4 linked regions of the Homo sapiens genome follow. The protein of the gene in region 4 interacts with the protein of the main gene of each other region in a pairwise test. Each region holds a gene or a part of one and is shown on either strand. Other genes may lie near its edges.

What was found. Proteins that work in one complex are often made in the same cells at the same time.
Region 1: the proteins of PECR (region 4) and SOD2 come close enough for resonance energy transfer, tested with the Homo sapiens proteins (one large-scale study listed by BioGRID).
Region 2: the proteins of PECR (region 4) and ABCD1 come close enough for resonance energy transfer, tested with the Homo sapiens proteins (one large-scale study listed by BioGRID).
Region 3: the proteins of PECR (region 4) and TYSND1 come close enough for resonance energy transfer, tested with the Homo sapiens proteins (one large-scale study listed by BioGRID).

The regions. Positions count from the first base shown.
Region 1 is NC_000006.12:159,690,442-159,694,667, forward strand, and holds the start of SOD2 (superoxide dismutase [Mn], mitochondrial isoform A precursor), read right to left. Parts: upstream 2,801-4,226; 5' UTR 2,727-2,800; coding exon 2,704-2,726; intron 2,423-2,703; coding exon 2,220-2,422; coding exon of another isoform or gene 2,023-2,219; exon of another isoform or gene 478-2,022; intron 1-477. UniProt on the Homo sapiens protein: Destroys superoxide anion radicals which are normally produced within the cells and which are toxic to biological systems.
Region 2 is NC_000023.11:153,741,856-153,745,255, reverse strand, and holds the end of ABCD1 (ATP-binding cassette sub-family D member 1), read right to left. Parts: intron 2,270-3,400; coding exon 2,185-2,269; intron 2,036-2,184; coding exon 1,910-2,035; intron 1,768-1,909; coding exon 1,521-1,767; 3' UTR 501-1,520; downstream 1-500. UniProt on the Homo sapiens protein: ATP-dependent transporter of the ATP-binding cassette (ABC) family involved in the transport of very long chain fatty acid (VLCFA)-CoA from the cytosol to the peroxisome lumen.
Region 3 is NC_000010.11:70,140,591-70,143,700, reverse strand, and holds part of TYSND1 (peroxisomal leader peptide-processing protease), read left to right. Parts: intron 1-847; coding exon 848-1,033; intron 1,034-3,110. UniProt on the Homo sapiens protein: Peroxisomal protease that mediates both the removal of the leader peptide from proteins containing a PTS2 target sequence and processes several PTS1-containing proteins.
Region 4 is NC_000002.12:216,036,907-216,041,673, forward strand, and holds the end of PECR (peroxisomal trans-2-enoyl-CoA reductase), read right to left. Parts: intron 2,455-4,767; coding exon 2,369-2,454; 3' UTR 1,482-2,368; downstream 1-1,481. UniProt on the Homo sapiens protein: Participates in chain elongation of fatty acids. Catalyzes the reduction of trans-2-enoyl-CoAs of varying chain lengths from 6:1 to 16:1, having maximum activity with 10:1 CoA. Has no 2,4-dienoyl-CoA reductase activity.

The DNA of each region.
Region 1 (4,226 bases), on a different chromosome or scaffold from region 4:
AGAATTAAAAAAAAAATTTTTAAAAGGAACATACGTAGACAATGCTGCTTTCTGAAACAAGCTCCAGTTGTTTAGCGATTCAGAAAGGAGAGAACCAACTGATATCTGAATACACAGCTAATCTCAAAGGGTTTTTTAAAGACACCAACTTTTTTTTTCCTTTGTTAGGTTTACAAACAGTTTTTTATAGATCTGTGTTTCCCTTATTAAATTTTCTTGAGAGTCACTCTAAAAATAGATGTAACTTTTCTATTGTTTTTTAATAAATCAATAGTAACTGAATTTTTAAAATGGGAAAGATACATGCTTAATGAGAGATAATTTAATAATCTTAACATCTTACAGTTTGCTTACTCATTTTAAAATTAATAAAAATTGAGGGCTTAATATCTGCTTTTAAGAACACTTTTCTGAAATTCAACATTTTATTTGGTTTCAGTTTAGTTTTTGCCTCAAATAATAATAAAAGTCAAATGCTTTTTGTTGAAAAATATTCATATTAGTCAGTTAAATGTGATGAGATTATGACATTGTTTTATCTTTTTTCCCCAAGTTTTCAAACATGAAAATCTTTTTAATAATTTTTAAAATATGTTTAAGTAAAAGAAAGCTCTGCAGGTACTCAATCACTTATAAACAATATAGTACAATACAATAAAAAGCTTTTTTCCAGTGGGTTGTATTACATAAGTAAGGCTCTGATTCCACAAGTAAAGGACTGAAATTAAGTTGTTTTTAAAATACTGAAGAGAAAGGTTCCTGGTGTCAGATGTTGCCTTACAGGAAGTACTTTCACAACTGGGGTATTCCCCAGTCTCTCCCCATTACATGTTTCCCAAATTTGTTATTTCCTAAATCACGGGGCCTTTTCCCGTAATTCAAGGTTCGTCTGTCTCAAGTAAATCTTCCAGAATGTGGTAACTTCCTCCTCTTTTAATCATTTACTTCAAACACAATCAGGCTGAAATACTGCATTTTTCCACTAGATGCCTCCAGTCAACAAGATGTGACTGTCTAAAAATTACTCAACAAATTTCATAACCCCGAAATTCAAAACATTTAAGGAAAAGTAAACATTTTTTACTACGTAGCTTACCAAGCAATACAGAGAGTCTAAAAAACATGACTATCGATTATCTTCCTTGTGCAAACCACTAACGAATAAATTAAAAAGACAATACTATTTTGTAAAAAACGTTAAAACATAACATTCCCATACACACCCCCAAAAGGCACAGACTCAAAAAGTCCACATACCCCTGGTTTTATCAACCGAGCTCTTGAGAAAAAAAAAAAAAGTTAACAACATATATTTTAATTGCATTACAAATATGAGTAAATAGTAAATAAAAACAAGCCTGTTTCAGTTTCCCACTAAAGGGCTATTTTCCTTGTGAACTTTGACCCCTAAGGGAAATCAAGAAAAGTATCAAGTCTAAAGATCCTGAACTGTTCCACAGTTAGGTTACTGCTTTTTTGGTAACGCACACCACAACGGTGTGCCTCCTCCTCTCCCACCTGAAGTCAAGTGGGCTCAGTGAAGTTTCACCTGCAGGGTAGCTGGGGATGCAGGGAGTCTCCAAGTCCTAGGCTGGAGTCCCGACCCCGTTTGCTCTCAGGAAGATGACAAGGACCATGGTTCCTAGCACGGAGTAGTGTCCTCCTGTCTCCCACCTTCAGTGTGACCTGGCAGTAAGACACCACTCCCACTTCTATCAGGAGGTGACCCTGACACTCAGAGACACCTGCGGACCCGATGATGTCTGGCCACCAGTGGACAGGCGCTCTCAGCCCTCCTGCAAACGGCTGGCACACCTACCTGAGAGACCAAACATTTCCCCAAAGCACATTATACAACAAGAACAATTTCAATTTGCAAAAAAAACGAGTGACACAGTAGAGCTTTCTTTTCAGGCCCTACAATTCACCAGTGCTGGCAATATGTGTAACGGAATGTGGCTCACAACAGTAAGGCAAGCTCCTTCGCAGGACCCCAAGTTCCCTGAGATGACAGAAGTGTGTTCAAACCCATCGAGGCACTCCTTCTACAATGAGGTAGACCATGTGTTTAAAAGAGAGACTATCGTGCCTGGAAAACTCGGAACCGGTACAAATACGAAGCGAGTTCTCCTCCACGGAGAGGCCCGTCCGTATGGGGCCTGGCTCCCTGGGGTCGCCTCTGCCGGGGACTGCCTCCCGCCGCTCAGCCTGGAACCTACCCTTGGCCAACGCCTCCTGGTACTTCTCCTCGGTGACGTTCAGGTTGTTCACGTAGGCCGCGTGGTGCTTGCTGTGGTGCAGCTGCATGATCTGCGCGTTGATGTGAGGTTCCAGGGCGCCGTAGTCGTAGGGCAGGTCGGGGAGGCTGTGCTTCTGCCTGGAGCCCAGATACCCCAAAACCGGAGCCAGCTGCCTGCTGGTGCTGAAGACGAGAAAGCACAGCCCGGTCAGTCAGCGCCGCGGGACCGTCTACGCAGGCTGGGCTGCCGAGGAACGGCAGCGCGCGGCGTCCCCCGAGTCCCCGCGTCCCCTCCCTGCGGATCCCCGCTCCAGCCGCCGCGCCGGGCACTCCCGGGAGAACCGCCTGCAGGTGCCCCGGTCCCGCCAGGCCCGGTGCGGCCACTGTCGCCATTGCCGCGGAGGCCCTGCCCGCCGCGAGCCCCTTCGCCCTTGGGGCCGTGACCGGGTCCCCTTTCTTCTCACCCGCACACTGCCCGGCTCAACATGCTGCTAGTGCTGGTGCTACCGCTGATGCCGCCGATCTGCTGAAGCCGCTGCCGAAGCCACCACAGCCACGAGTGCCGCTCCTGCGCCGCCCGCGGGCCTTAAGAAAGCGCGGGGAGCAGGGCCGCGACCCCAGCTGCGCCGCAAGGGCACCGCCGCCCCGCCCCCCCCCCCCGCGGGCCCCGCCCCGCGCCCGCCGCGCCCAACCCCGGGGGTGCCCTGCGTGCCTGTCCCGCCCGCCCGCGCTTGCCGTACACCCCGCGCCCAGGGCACGGGAGAAAGGAGGCTGCAGGCTAGCCTCGGCCTCGGCAACCTCGCTGCCTGTCTGCCGTACTTGAGTGGCGCGCGGCCGAAGGGAGGCGGCCCCTGCCCCCGTGGAGTTGGTACGGCCCGAAGGCCCTGCCTCCGGCTCCGCCCCTGAGGGTGCCGGCGGGGATCTGGCTGCACTAGGCGGCTGCGGCGCCTGCCCCTGAGTTTTGGTTGCGCTGCCGGGGGGCCGCGGGGTCCAGAGGCCTCACTGCAAAAAGACATTCATACCCTCCCAGGGCCCCCGTGGCCGTTCCTAGGGAAGACGGGGCCTAGCTGCTGGTCAGCGCCGCCCAGCCGGCCTATGAGCTGAGGGTAGAGCCAGCGCCCTTCCAACCCGTATTCAGTACTCTTGCGCCGTACCCTTGCTTTGCAAGTAAGCCGACCTTGGGACCTATTCCAGGACAGGAGGCACACAGACTTTGTCCCCACCGGCTGCCTAAGAACAGTTCTTGGACACCCACGACGTGCCCGAGACTGCAGGCAGGATTTGCACACATTTATCTTTATTTTTACCCCTAGGGTTGGTATTATTGATTCTAGTAATAGTGAAATCCTTTGAGGTTAAGCAGCTTCTCCTGGGCACAGTTAACTGAGTCAGGACTAGTTCCCACCTTCCTCACTACTAAGCCCTGGCAGTCATGTTTTGTGTGTTTACAGTAACTCTGTGAACCAACTGTTCAGGATAACATAAAAGGACAACAGAGGATTCTTTCCTGCGCTGTCTTGTAGCCTAGTAAGCTGTTAAGTATCAAGTGCTCTCTCAACAGTTAAACAACAATCCTGAATGGTGTGAATCTTCCATGTGTAGAGGTTAGGAAATCTACACTGCCATTGGCGGGAGTTGCCCCTTTATTGAAAAGAATATGATGGAAGGTAGCAGGTGCTGAACCGTTTCCGTTGCTTCTTGCAACCCCCGTACAGCCCTCCGAAGGATGACTAGGCTTCCGGTAAGTGGAATGGGAAAACAGTCAGGCGAAGAGGAACCACCTGAACTTGGCTTCACAACAGGAAGGGCTGGGCTTGTTTACAGACGTCAGAAGAATGTAACTAGGGCTACGTGTTGGGGTGAAAAAGGAAATTCAGGCTGGGACCAGGTTATAGATACTCTTATTTTTTTAATTTATTATTTATTTATTTTTGAGACACAGCCTCGCTCTGTCGCTCAGGCTGGAGTACTGTGTCGCGATGTCGGC
Region 2 (3,400 bases), on a different chromosome or scaffold from region 4:
GTCTCTGTAGTGTGGCCTCCAAGGCCCGCCGGCCGCAGCCCTCCCTTCCCCTGCCCTCCCTTCCCCTGCATGCAGCACGAACACCCTGCGCTGTGCTCCCAGTTCCCCCCAGGCCCCTGCACAAGTGGCCGCCTCTCCCTAGAAGGGCCAGCAGCACCCTGTGTGGCAGCTTAGACATCCCTTCTCTTGCCTTCGTGCTCCTCCCACAGGGACCAGCATGATCCCCTCCCCTAGTCCTATTTGGGCTCAGCCAGTATTTCTGTGCAATGTTGTTGCAGGTTCCGCCCCGCCACCGTCACAGGAATCCTAAGAGCATTGGCGTGAGGCTCGGCGGAGGGCATGCTGGACCATGTCTTCTGGTGACTTTCCCCCTCGGAGGGGCTTGGGGGTCAGGCCCACTCCTTTCCCAAACTCACTCTTTCCCCCACAGGCAACCCACTCCCTCTCCTCCATCTCTCCTCGAGACCCACAGCAGACACCACCAGGCTCTGAGGCAGGGAGGAAGGACTGCATTTGCCAGTGGAGGCTTTTACTGGGGGGACTGGGGGTGGTGCCCGGCCCGAGGGCTGAGGGCCCGGGAAAGGCACACGGTGGCGGTGGGGTCTCTCTCGGGCAGGCGCTGGCTCCGCAGACAGCTCCCCCTGGTGACCCCTCTTTGGCACTGAGCTGGGAACATGGTGTCCGCACTCCTGGCTGGCAAGCAGAGGCCCGTGTGCCCCGGTGGCGGCTGGCAGTGTAGGCTGGCGGGGTGACGGCCGCAGGGGCTGGGTTTGGCACCGGTGGGAGCCGGGGCCCCACGGGACTCAGAGGCTGGGCCGCCCCCGCTGCTGGCACGGTAGTCACATTGGCCACGGAGATGGCTACGAATAGGGAATCCAATAAATTAGGCTGTAGAAAGAGGTGGTGAGGGGCCGAGGGGGCGGGGCCTGCATTCTCGCTTGGCAGGCAGTGCTGTGCGTCCCTCTCCCCTCTCCCGTGGGATCTTTGGGGCTCTTGTGGGGGAGAGGATGCAGGTGAGGCGCTCTGTGTGACTGTGGGTCCCACTGGGCGGCTTTTATGGCATCCCACGGAACGGGAGCCTTGGCTGACCACCCTCAGGGGATGGACCATGGGGTCTTTGAGAGACTGACGAGGAGGGAATCATGGGGACTCGAGTCTCTGGAGGGAGGCCACCTGCAGTGCCAGGGGCTGTGGCCTGACGGGCTCCTGGGGCTCGGCTGCGCTGCTGTGTGGCCAGCACTGGGCCCCTTGTACCCCAGCTTCCTCCACGGAGCAAAGTAGAGGACTCACTGCCCTGGACAGGGCCCAGTCACTGTGGAACAGCGCCCCCAGGGAGTGGGAGGGACAGGGCGAGGGTTACGCAGGGCGCCACCCTCCACATCTACTTTCCCGAGGGCGGGAAGGGTTTTCTAGGAGGAGGGGCCAGGCATGCAGGGGCGGGGTGCGTGCATGGGTGGGTGCTGCTGTCTCCTTCATGTGATCCGAGCTTGGGGGCGGGGCAGGGGCCGGGGACGGTTGTGTCAGGTGGAGGCACCCTGGAGGCCACCAGGGCCTTGCGGGCTAGGTGCCGGCACATGCGCTGGGGCCACGGCCTCGCCCAGGATCTGGCAGAGCTCCTGGAGGCGCCGCTGCATCTTGGGAATGCCCGCCAGCTGCTGCTCCAGCCGCTGCTTCTCCTCCGTCAGGCTCAGGCGGGCAGCTGAGTCCAGCTTCTCGAACTTCCAGCCGCCCTCCCCATCGAACTGTAGCAAGTGTGTGTGGTATTTCCTGGCCAGGAGAGGGACAGGGTCAGGGGCACGGCACGGGGGCTGCTGATGACAGCCGCCTGCTGCTGCCGGGCCCGCCAGGCCACCTCCTCCCCTCAGGCAGCCACTCCCACCGACCCCAGGCAGGGAGACAGGGCACCTACCACAGGGAGGGCCGGTGGGTGATGGAGAGCAGGGCAATGCCCGCGTCCTTGGCCGCCTGGAAGATCTTGCCTTCCACGTCGATGCTCACGGCGCTGGTGCATTCATCCAGGAGGGCGTACTTGGGCCTGGGGGTCCGGGCCGAGAGGAGAGTCTGTGCACCCTCCAGGGCCCAACACCCCAGCCCGGCTCAGGCTCCACTGAGCCCAGGCCTCCCCACAGCTGCTACTTCCCCTTCCAGGGGACCCCAGGGAGCCTGCCGGCCCGGAGTGCTCACCTGTGGTAGAACATGCGGGCCATGCCGATTCTCTGCTTCTCGCCACCCGACAGGACGTCCTTCCAGTCACACATAGCCTCCCAACCTAGGCGGGGGCAATGGTCTTGGCTCAGTTCCACCAGCACCCAGACCCGGGGGCCAGCCGGGGAGCTGGGGGAGCTGCGGGAATGAGCTAGCTGTGACGACAGGGCCCCTGTGCCTCTGCGTCCTTGTCTGTCTGACAGGCATTAATCATGGAGGAGTGGGGACTGGAATCGTGCCTTCCCCCAGAAGAGATACGGTGGAGTCCAAGCCCCAACACTTCAGTGTGACCTTATTTGGAGACAGGGCCTTCGCAGAGGTGATCACACTAAGATGAGGTCATCAGAGTGGACCCTAATTCAATATGACTGTGTCCTCATAAAAAGGGGGTGTGTGGGCAGAAGACATGCACAGGGGAACATGAGGTGAAGATATACAGGGAGAAGTGGACCATCTGCGAGCCGAGGACAGAGGCCTGGAACACATCCTTCTGTCATGGCACCCGGAAGGAGCCCACCCTGCTGGCACCTGGATCTCGGACTGCTGGATCTAGGAGACAATCCATCCCTGCGGTTTATGGCAGCCCCAGGGCACCCATACAGTTCCTTGGCACAGAGCTCCAGAGCGGCCTGAGTGCTCTCCCCAGACCGGGGGCTTGTCACCCACAGGGGTTGGGCCTCCTGTCACTGCCCCGTGTCAGCACTTTGGCAAGGCTCGAGTGGGCTGCTTGAACGAGCAGGTGAGCCGGCTGCTCCATTAGGTCGGGGCGCTGCGGCAGAAGCGGCCCTTCCTGTCTTCTCGCCCATGCTGCCTTCCCCAGCGGCCCAGGGCTAGAAGTGGCAACAGGGCATATGGCCACCCAGAGTAGAGATTACGCTTCCCAGGTGGCCTTGTGATGAGGTGTGAGCATGAGACTAAGTTGTGGCCAATGAGATATAACTGTAAGTATTCAATATGGCGGCTTCTGGAACCTTCCTTAAAAGAAGGCACATACCTTTTGCCCCTTCCCTTCTACTTCCTCCATCCTACAGCCTGGGACATGATGTGAGGGCTGCAGCAGCCCTCCTGGATCATGAGGTGACTTTGGGAACGGAGGCCAAACACAGCAGAGTGACCTGGTAGAAAATCCTCGAGCCCTGGGGCCTTCACAGAGCAGGGCCAGCCCTGGCAACCGTGGCCTGGCTCTCTTGGGACC
Region 3 (3,110 bases), on a different chromosome or scaffold from region 4:
TGGTGGGGCACATGGAGTGCCCTGGGAAGGATAATGCTGCACGCCCTTTCCCCGAGTGCCTGCAGCAATGTAGTGTGAGGATGCTGGGCCTTTGGGGTTCCTTAACACTTCAGGCTGGTCAGAGAGGCATGTGGCACTTTCAAGGCTCCAGGGGCACGATTTGGGTAAAAGGCTTTGTGATGCTGCCACATAAGTACTGATGTTGCACTCCATGGAGGCAGTGTGATACAGTGATGAAGGGTCCAGGGGCTCTGGATGGGCATCTTTCCTATGCCACCTATTAGTCCCATGTCCTTGGACAGGCTAGTTAACTATCCTCTGCCTCATTTTCCACGTCTTTGAAATGGGGCTAATGCATCCTATTTCTGGGTGTTGTGAGGGCTGGGTGTGACGTTGCCTGTAAAGCACTTACCCCCATACCCTGCACTTGGAAAAGGAAGGTCATGGCTGCATTATAGCCATCATCACCATTTCTTTTCACGAAGAGACTTCTTAGGAGTTCCAGGAGGAGATGGGTGTGAATTCCACAAACATTTATTGAGCATGTAGGTAGGTGTTAGGAACTCCTAAAAGTCACTGCCCCGCCTGTCCAGGGAACAAGGACTAGGGAACAGCCTGTTGCTCAGAAGTGGTCATGCAGATACAGTGCTAGGAGCTCAGTGGAGTTCTCAGCCTCTTCCAGCCAGGGGACATGGGGAAGGCTCTCTGGAGGCAGGAGTATCTGAGCAGAAACTTGAAGGGTGGAGAGGTTTGGAATGTTTGGAGAGGGTAGGGATGGGAGTTAGGGAGTGTGAGTCCTGCTGTAACACAGGTGTCCCCAGCTTCACCCTCCTTCCTTCCCTGGCAGGCGAGGCTGTGAGTGTGGTGGGCTTTGGCGTCTTTGGCCAGTCTTGCGGGCCCTCGGTGACCTCAGGCATCCTTTCGGCTGTGGTGCAGGTGAATGGCACGCCCGTAATGCTGCAGACCACGTGTGCTGTGCACAGCGGCTCCAGTGGGGGACCCCTCTTCTCCAACCACTCAGGAAACCTCCTTGGTAACCAGCTCTTTGGCCCCCTCCCGCCCTCCCACTTGCCAGAACCTCAGTCCCACCCCATGAGTGCTTGTGGCCAGCCCCAGTGCACCCTCTGTCTGGGAAAATGGTGGGCATTATGAGTGAGCTAGCGAAGGTTTGCAGGCTGTTCTCCTGATGGTGGAGAGGGACGGATGCTGGACTGGGAGGAAAGAGATCTGGGCTCTGGTCCCTTCTCTGCTACTAATCTAATCTGGTTTGATCTGTGAAATTGAGGAGTTGGATTAGTCAAAGCGTCACAGACTCAAAAGCCAACAGAGGCTGGAAAGATAAAGCAAATGAATGAGAAGACAACAGGGAGGGGAGGGGAGGGGTCTAAACTGAAGCGCACTCGACTCAGCTGCTGCAGACTGTGGCCATGAAGGAGGATGGGCCTAACGTTGGCTGGTATTCTAATATTTTCACAAGACATGTAAAGCTTTTTTAAAAAAATACATGTGGCCGTTAAATCGATCAATTTTTAAATTTTGGTAACATTCAGGTTTTTAAAAAACAGTCTGTTTAGCTGTCAAAAAGAAAAAAACATGAGTTCATCTAGAAACCTCCAACTCCAGTCCAGTCTAACTCTCCTTGTTTCTTCTTTCTCCTGTAGTGAAAAACCTTGCTCTTGTTGTCTACAATATGTTTACTTATCTGTTCCATCCTAGTATACAAGTAAAATTGTATTTGCATAACTTTAGTATATTTCCTCTAAATATTTAGTACTTACAAAGAGGAAATATTGGAGCCGTAAGTAATATTTAGAGCCATAAGTCTAGGCCTGGTGTGGTAGCTCGTGCCAGTAATCCCAACACTTCCGGAGGCTGAGGCAAGAGGATCACTTGAAATGGGAGTTCGAGACCAGCCTGGGCAACATAGTGAGACTCTGCCTCTATTTTTATTTAAAAAAATTTTTTTTAATTAAAAAAAAAGAAAGGAAAATACTAAGTCTACCTTGGAGAGGCCTGGCAGATACCACCTCAGCCAAGTGATCAAGGTGAACGTCAGAAGTACTCCATACAGACATCAGATAGCTGAGACACTGGGAAGGACACATGGCTTTTATGGTATTCTTCCCAATAATGTGTAACCTTAAACAATTAAAAGTAATGGCAAAACAATTAAAAGTAATGACAAAAACCGCATTCATTTTTGCACCAACCCAATAGTCATGAGAAAACATTAGGTAGGCCTCAATTGAGGGTCATTCTCTAAAATCACTGACCTGAGCCAGACATGGTGGTATGTGCCTGTAGTCCTGGCTCTGCAGGAATCTGAAGTGGGAAGATCACTTGAGCCCAGGAGTTCAAGGCTGCAGTGAACTATGGTCACCATTACACTTTAGCCTGTGTGACAGAGCGAGACCCATCTCAAAAAAATAAACAGTGTTTATTTAAAAAAAAAAAAAAAAAAGCCAGGTATGGTGGCTCGCACTTGTAATTCTAGCACTTTTGGAGGCCAGGGCGGGAGGATTGCTTGAGTCTGGGAGTTCAAGACCAAGCTGGACAACCATAGTGAGGCCCCATCTCTACAAAATATTTTAGGGAGGCTGAGGCGGGAGAATCACTTGAGCCCAGGAGGTTGAGGTTGCAGTGAGCTATAATCCCACCACTGCACTCTAGCATGGGTGACAGAGCGAGACCTTGCCTCTAAAAAAACAAAAACAAGAACAAAAAAAAAAACTGTAAATAAATAAAATAACCTGCACTTTTAAAAATGTCAAGGCCACGAAAGATAAGGAAAGACTGAGGAACTGACCCAGATTGGAGGAGATTTGGGAGATGCGACAACTAAATGGAATATGGAGTCCTAGACTGGATATTGGAACTGAAAAAGGACATTAGTGGAAAAACTAGTGCAACTCATGTCAATGAGTTCTGTAGTTCACTTAATAACAGTATTCTACCAAGGTATATGTTTTGGTTTTGATAAATATTTTTTGGTGACATTAGATACGAACATAAAGGAAAGCTGGTCAAAGGGTATATAGAATTCTGCAATATTTAGGCAAGACTTCTGTATGTCTGAAATTATCTTTAAAAAACTACACACACATCCATGC
Region 4 (4,767 bases):
TACATAAATATAGAATTTTCATTTTGTTTCCTGTCTTTCAGTTATATGCCGTGGACATCATGGCCTTATCCTTTATAGCACTCGTGTTCTCTCTCTTTCTCTCAATCTCTCCCTACTGTAAGCTCAGTAAGGACAAGATACATGTGTATTTTTTCACCATTGCATGTCTGACTCCTAGCATAATGCTAAATACATAGTAGGTGCTCCAAATTATTAAGCCTATTCAAGAACAGTCACTCTACAACAAAATTTACTAAGCGTAGTTGCAAAAGTACATTATTGACAGGATACTATTATGATGTACATAAGAGTCCTGGATAATAAATTCATAATTCTAAAAATATAGATAATGACCAGCTGTCCAGTGATAGTCTAAGAAGAAGCTCTAATAAGCAGTTGTACCTAAGTTTAGTGCTACATAGGCAGGTTCTGTCCCTTAAGCAGAAATAACTGGCAACGCTATGGAGATTTAAGGAGTCGATGGCAGTCATTAACACAGGTCATGTGAAAGCAAGCCCTGCCTTTTCCATCTTCTCCACCAACCTGTATTAGGGCCACTTTTCCCTCTAACATGGTTTGTAATTCTCAGTTGTTATGATATTATCAGTTCCAGAAGGCCACTGTTAAAGGGCTATCTGGGAGGAAAATGAAGCTTTCTGATCTTCCCACATTATTAGTATGAGCACAAAATTGAAGGACACACTCACTCTCAGGGGCAATTCTGCACTGGCACAAACCTGACAATGGAGAATAGCTCCTTAAATGCTGCACCCTGGGCACCTCATTAGCCTCTCCCTCGTGCTAGCCCTGCTTGGGAGCATGAGAAAGCTGCAGATTCTGGGTCCCAAACCCCAGAGCTTGGTAACTCACACACTTTAAAATGAGGGTAAATGACAGGCCGGGCGTGGTGGCTCTCACCTGTAATCCCAGCAATTTGGGAGGCCAAAGCGGGCAGATCACTTAAGGTCAGGAGATCAAGACCAGCCTGGCCAATATGGTGAAACACCATCTCTACTAAAAATACAAAAATTGGCCGGGCGTGGTGGTGCACACCTGTCATCCCAGCTACGCAGGAGGCTGAAGCAGCAGAATCACTTGAACCCAGGAGGTGGAGGTTGTGGTGAGCCGAGATTATGCTACTGCACTCCAGCCTGGGTGACAGAGTGAGACTCCATCTTAAAAATAAATAAATAAATAAATAAATAAAGTGAGTGTTAATGATAAAAAAAAGAAAATAGCTACTTCACCTCAGATACTTGAAAGAACTTTGATTAAGACAAAGAATGAACATATTCAATCTGCTAAAGGCATTTCTTCAATAAGGGTCTAACTATCAGACTGGAGCCACGGAAGGCAGAATATGGAACCCTAATACATTTGCATGCAACTGAAATTTTGTTTTTGCCTACAAAAGGAGATACATGGAAAAAAGGGAATACTTTGGACAGAAAATCAAGACACAAATCAGGCACTGCCAAAAATAAATCACATAAAACTTTTTCTTTGAATTAAGAGAATTTATACAAATTTGACTTCATAAACAAAAGAAACTATACATCAATAATTACCATAAGGCATTATTGCTCCTAAAGTATTTGCCACCAAAAATAAGTCATTGTATAATTCTAATTTTAATAATCTTAATTACGACACAATTTAGGTTTATTTTCTACCTTTATAATTTTGTTGTTGTTGTTTGTTTTTGTTTTTTGGGTTTTTTTTGAGATGCAGTCTCACTCTGTAGCCCAGGCTGGACTGCAGTAGCATGATCTCAGCTCACTGCAACCTCTGCTTCCTGGGTTCAAGCGATCCTCCTGCCTCAGCCTCCCAAGTACCTGGGACTACAGGTGTGTGCCACCACACCCGACTAATTTGTGTTTTTGTTTTTGTTGTTTTTCAGTAGAGACAGGGTTTTACCATGTTGGCCAGCCTGGTCTTGAACTCCTGACCTCAACTGACCCGCCTACCTCGGCCTCCCAAAGTGCTGGAATTACAGGCGTGAGCCACTGCGTCTGGCCTCTACCTTTACAATTAAATAATAAAATCTTCTGGGAGTTCATGATCCCTAGAATTATCATTGATTTAAAATTATTCCATTTTTCAAATACTTTTCTTAGAAATAAAAAGTAAAGTCATTAAAATATGTTAATTTCTGTTACTTATACATTTTTAAATCATAGGTTAAAAGACTCTGATTGGGACATAAGACTGTATATATTTCAGGAATAGTTTTTCCATAGATATAATTAATAACACTTAAAAATAAGAAAAATGTTTTCCATACCAACTATAAGCTTTTAAAAAGTACAGAAGCATATCCTCAAGATGTGAAGGCACTGGGGGATGGAGGACACCTTGTTTCCTCAGCTCAGAGCTTAGCTTTCTCCTTAAAGGTCTCCTTCATCTTTTTGACAACAGAAAGGTCCCCTGCTCCCTTGGGCCAGTTGTCATGATCTGTTAAAGAAGTGGAAAGCCTCCTGTCACTTGCAAATCTCATTTGCCCTCTTCACTCCCACCAAATCCTCTTGTTAATTTCCCTGGTTCACACATTTTCTCAGCACCAAAAAATAAATCCTTAGGGCAAACATTTGAGAAAAGACTTCAATTTGAATCTCAGGTCTGCCACACGTTAGCTTTCCTGAATTTGGGCACATGTCTCTTCCTGAGCCTCAGTTTCCTCCTCTATTAAAGGATACAACAATATCTACCTTTTAAAGTTGTGAGGGTTAAATATGACACCATGTGTGCAGTGCTTCGCATACTGTGGATCGTCAATAAATAGTGTCTCCTTAATAATCACAATTTAAAAATAGTGTCCTTACTTTGTACCAGGCACTGCTACTTGCCTCTCCAGCATCCAGGTCCCCATCTCTTCTTTCCAACAGCTTGTTTCCATTTAACGATCTAGAAGGTGCCAGGGAAGCTTGGCACCAAGGCATGTGGTCTAAGCTAAGTCAGTCAGTGCACTATAACCCCGCCACAGTTATTGGTTGGAAATGGACATTTGCATAAGTTGATCGAATATAGAGTGGATCTCAGAATTTTGTTAGAAATTCTGGAACAAAGTCACTCCTCCAGCCCTCTCTCTGTGCATCTGGGTATGAACACAGAAGTATCAGCCTTACACATAGAAACAGCAGGCAGCCATCCTGCAATGAGGAGAGCCTGCCTTAAGATAGAGCCAACACCATGGAGGCAAAAACAGGAAACAGGGGAAAAACTTGTCCTTGATGAGATCAGTGAGCTACTAAGTCAAGTCTTACCTGTTTTTCAGTTATGTGCCAGCGAATTCCTTTACTGATGAGCCCATTTTGAGTTGTGACTAAAAGCATCCAATTCGACAAATGACTTTATTTTTTTAATTTTTATTTTTTGAGACAGGGTCTTGCTCTGTCAGCCAGGCTGGAGTGCAGTTGTGCAATCATGGCTCACTGCAACCTCGACTTCCCGGGCTCCAGTGATCCTCCCACCTAAGCCTCCCAAGTACAGGCACATGCCACCATGCCAGGCTAATTTTTTAAATGTTTTGTTGAGACGGAGTTTTGCCAGGTTGCCCAGGCTGGTCTTGAATTCCTGGGATCAAGCAATTGGCCCACCTTTGCCTCCCAAAGTGCTGAGATTACAGGTGTGAGCCATGGTGCCCAGCCCCTGACATAGGGATTTAAATGTGCATTATCTAAGGCCAGGCACAGTGGCTCATGCCTGTAATCCCAGCACTTTGGGAGGCCGAGGCAGGCGGATCACCTGAGGTCAGGAGTTCGAGACTAGCCTGGCCAACATAGTGAAACTCCATCTCTACTAAAACTACAAAAAAATTAGTGGGGCATAGTGTCGGGCACCTGTAATCCCAGCTACTCTGGATCCTGAGGCAGGAGAATTGCTTGAACCTGGGAGGCAGAGATTGCAGTGAGCCGAAATCATGTCACTGCACTCCAGCCTGGGCAACAAGAGTGAGACTCTGTCTCAAAAAAAAAGAAAAGAAAAAGTCCCTTATCTAATTTAATCCTCCCAACAGCTCTATGAAATAAATACTGTATGTGTCCCTGCATACAGGAACAAAATAGAGGCTTATAGAAATTAACTTTCTCACAATCATACGGCTAATAAGGGTAGAGCCAAGTTTCCATCTTAGGCATTCTCACCTTGGAGCTGCCAATCTTAAAAGAAAACACCATAGTGAAAGGCTGAATAATCTCATTATTCGGGGGGCAGTATATTCTTAAAAGATAGATGTACCCGCTTTCCTCAAAAACTGAAAAAAATATTTTTAATGATAAAAAGTGTTAGAATTACAAAAGAAAATCATGTCACTGAAGGCCTAAGGAAGAAGCTATTTGAAATTTCTTTCCCTTCTAAAGGTAAAACAGTGCAACCTGCGATAAGAAATAGTGACTGAAGTCTACTGTGAGAGAAGTGGAAAGATTCTCTCCACCCTCACTACTTGGAATTTTTTTCAGAAAACAATATGGCAAAACCATGTAGGTATTTCTTCTTTCCAACCAAGACCCTTAAAACTACAGTATCCTATGGACATCACCACATTGATGTTATTAGTAATGAAATACATGTGGGAGGGGAAAATAATAAGTAAAATTAAAGTTCTATACTGTGATATTGTGAAACATATATTTGGTCTTCAACCCCATCTCCCGCATACAACTCCTAATATCCTAGACTCGCCAAAGTGATGTGTTCTTATATGTTAATGATTGACTGATGGCTGGCAGCCCCTAGTTAGCTTCAGTATAGGGGCTGGTCACCAGACAG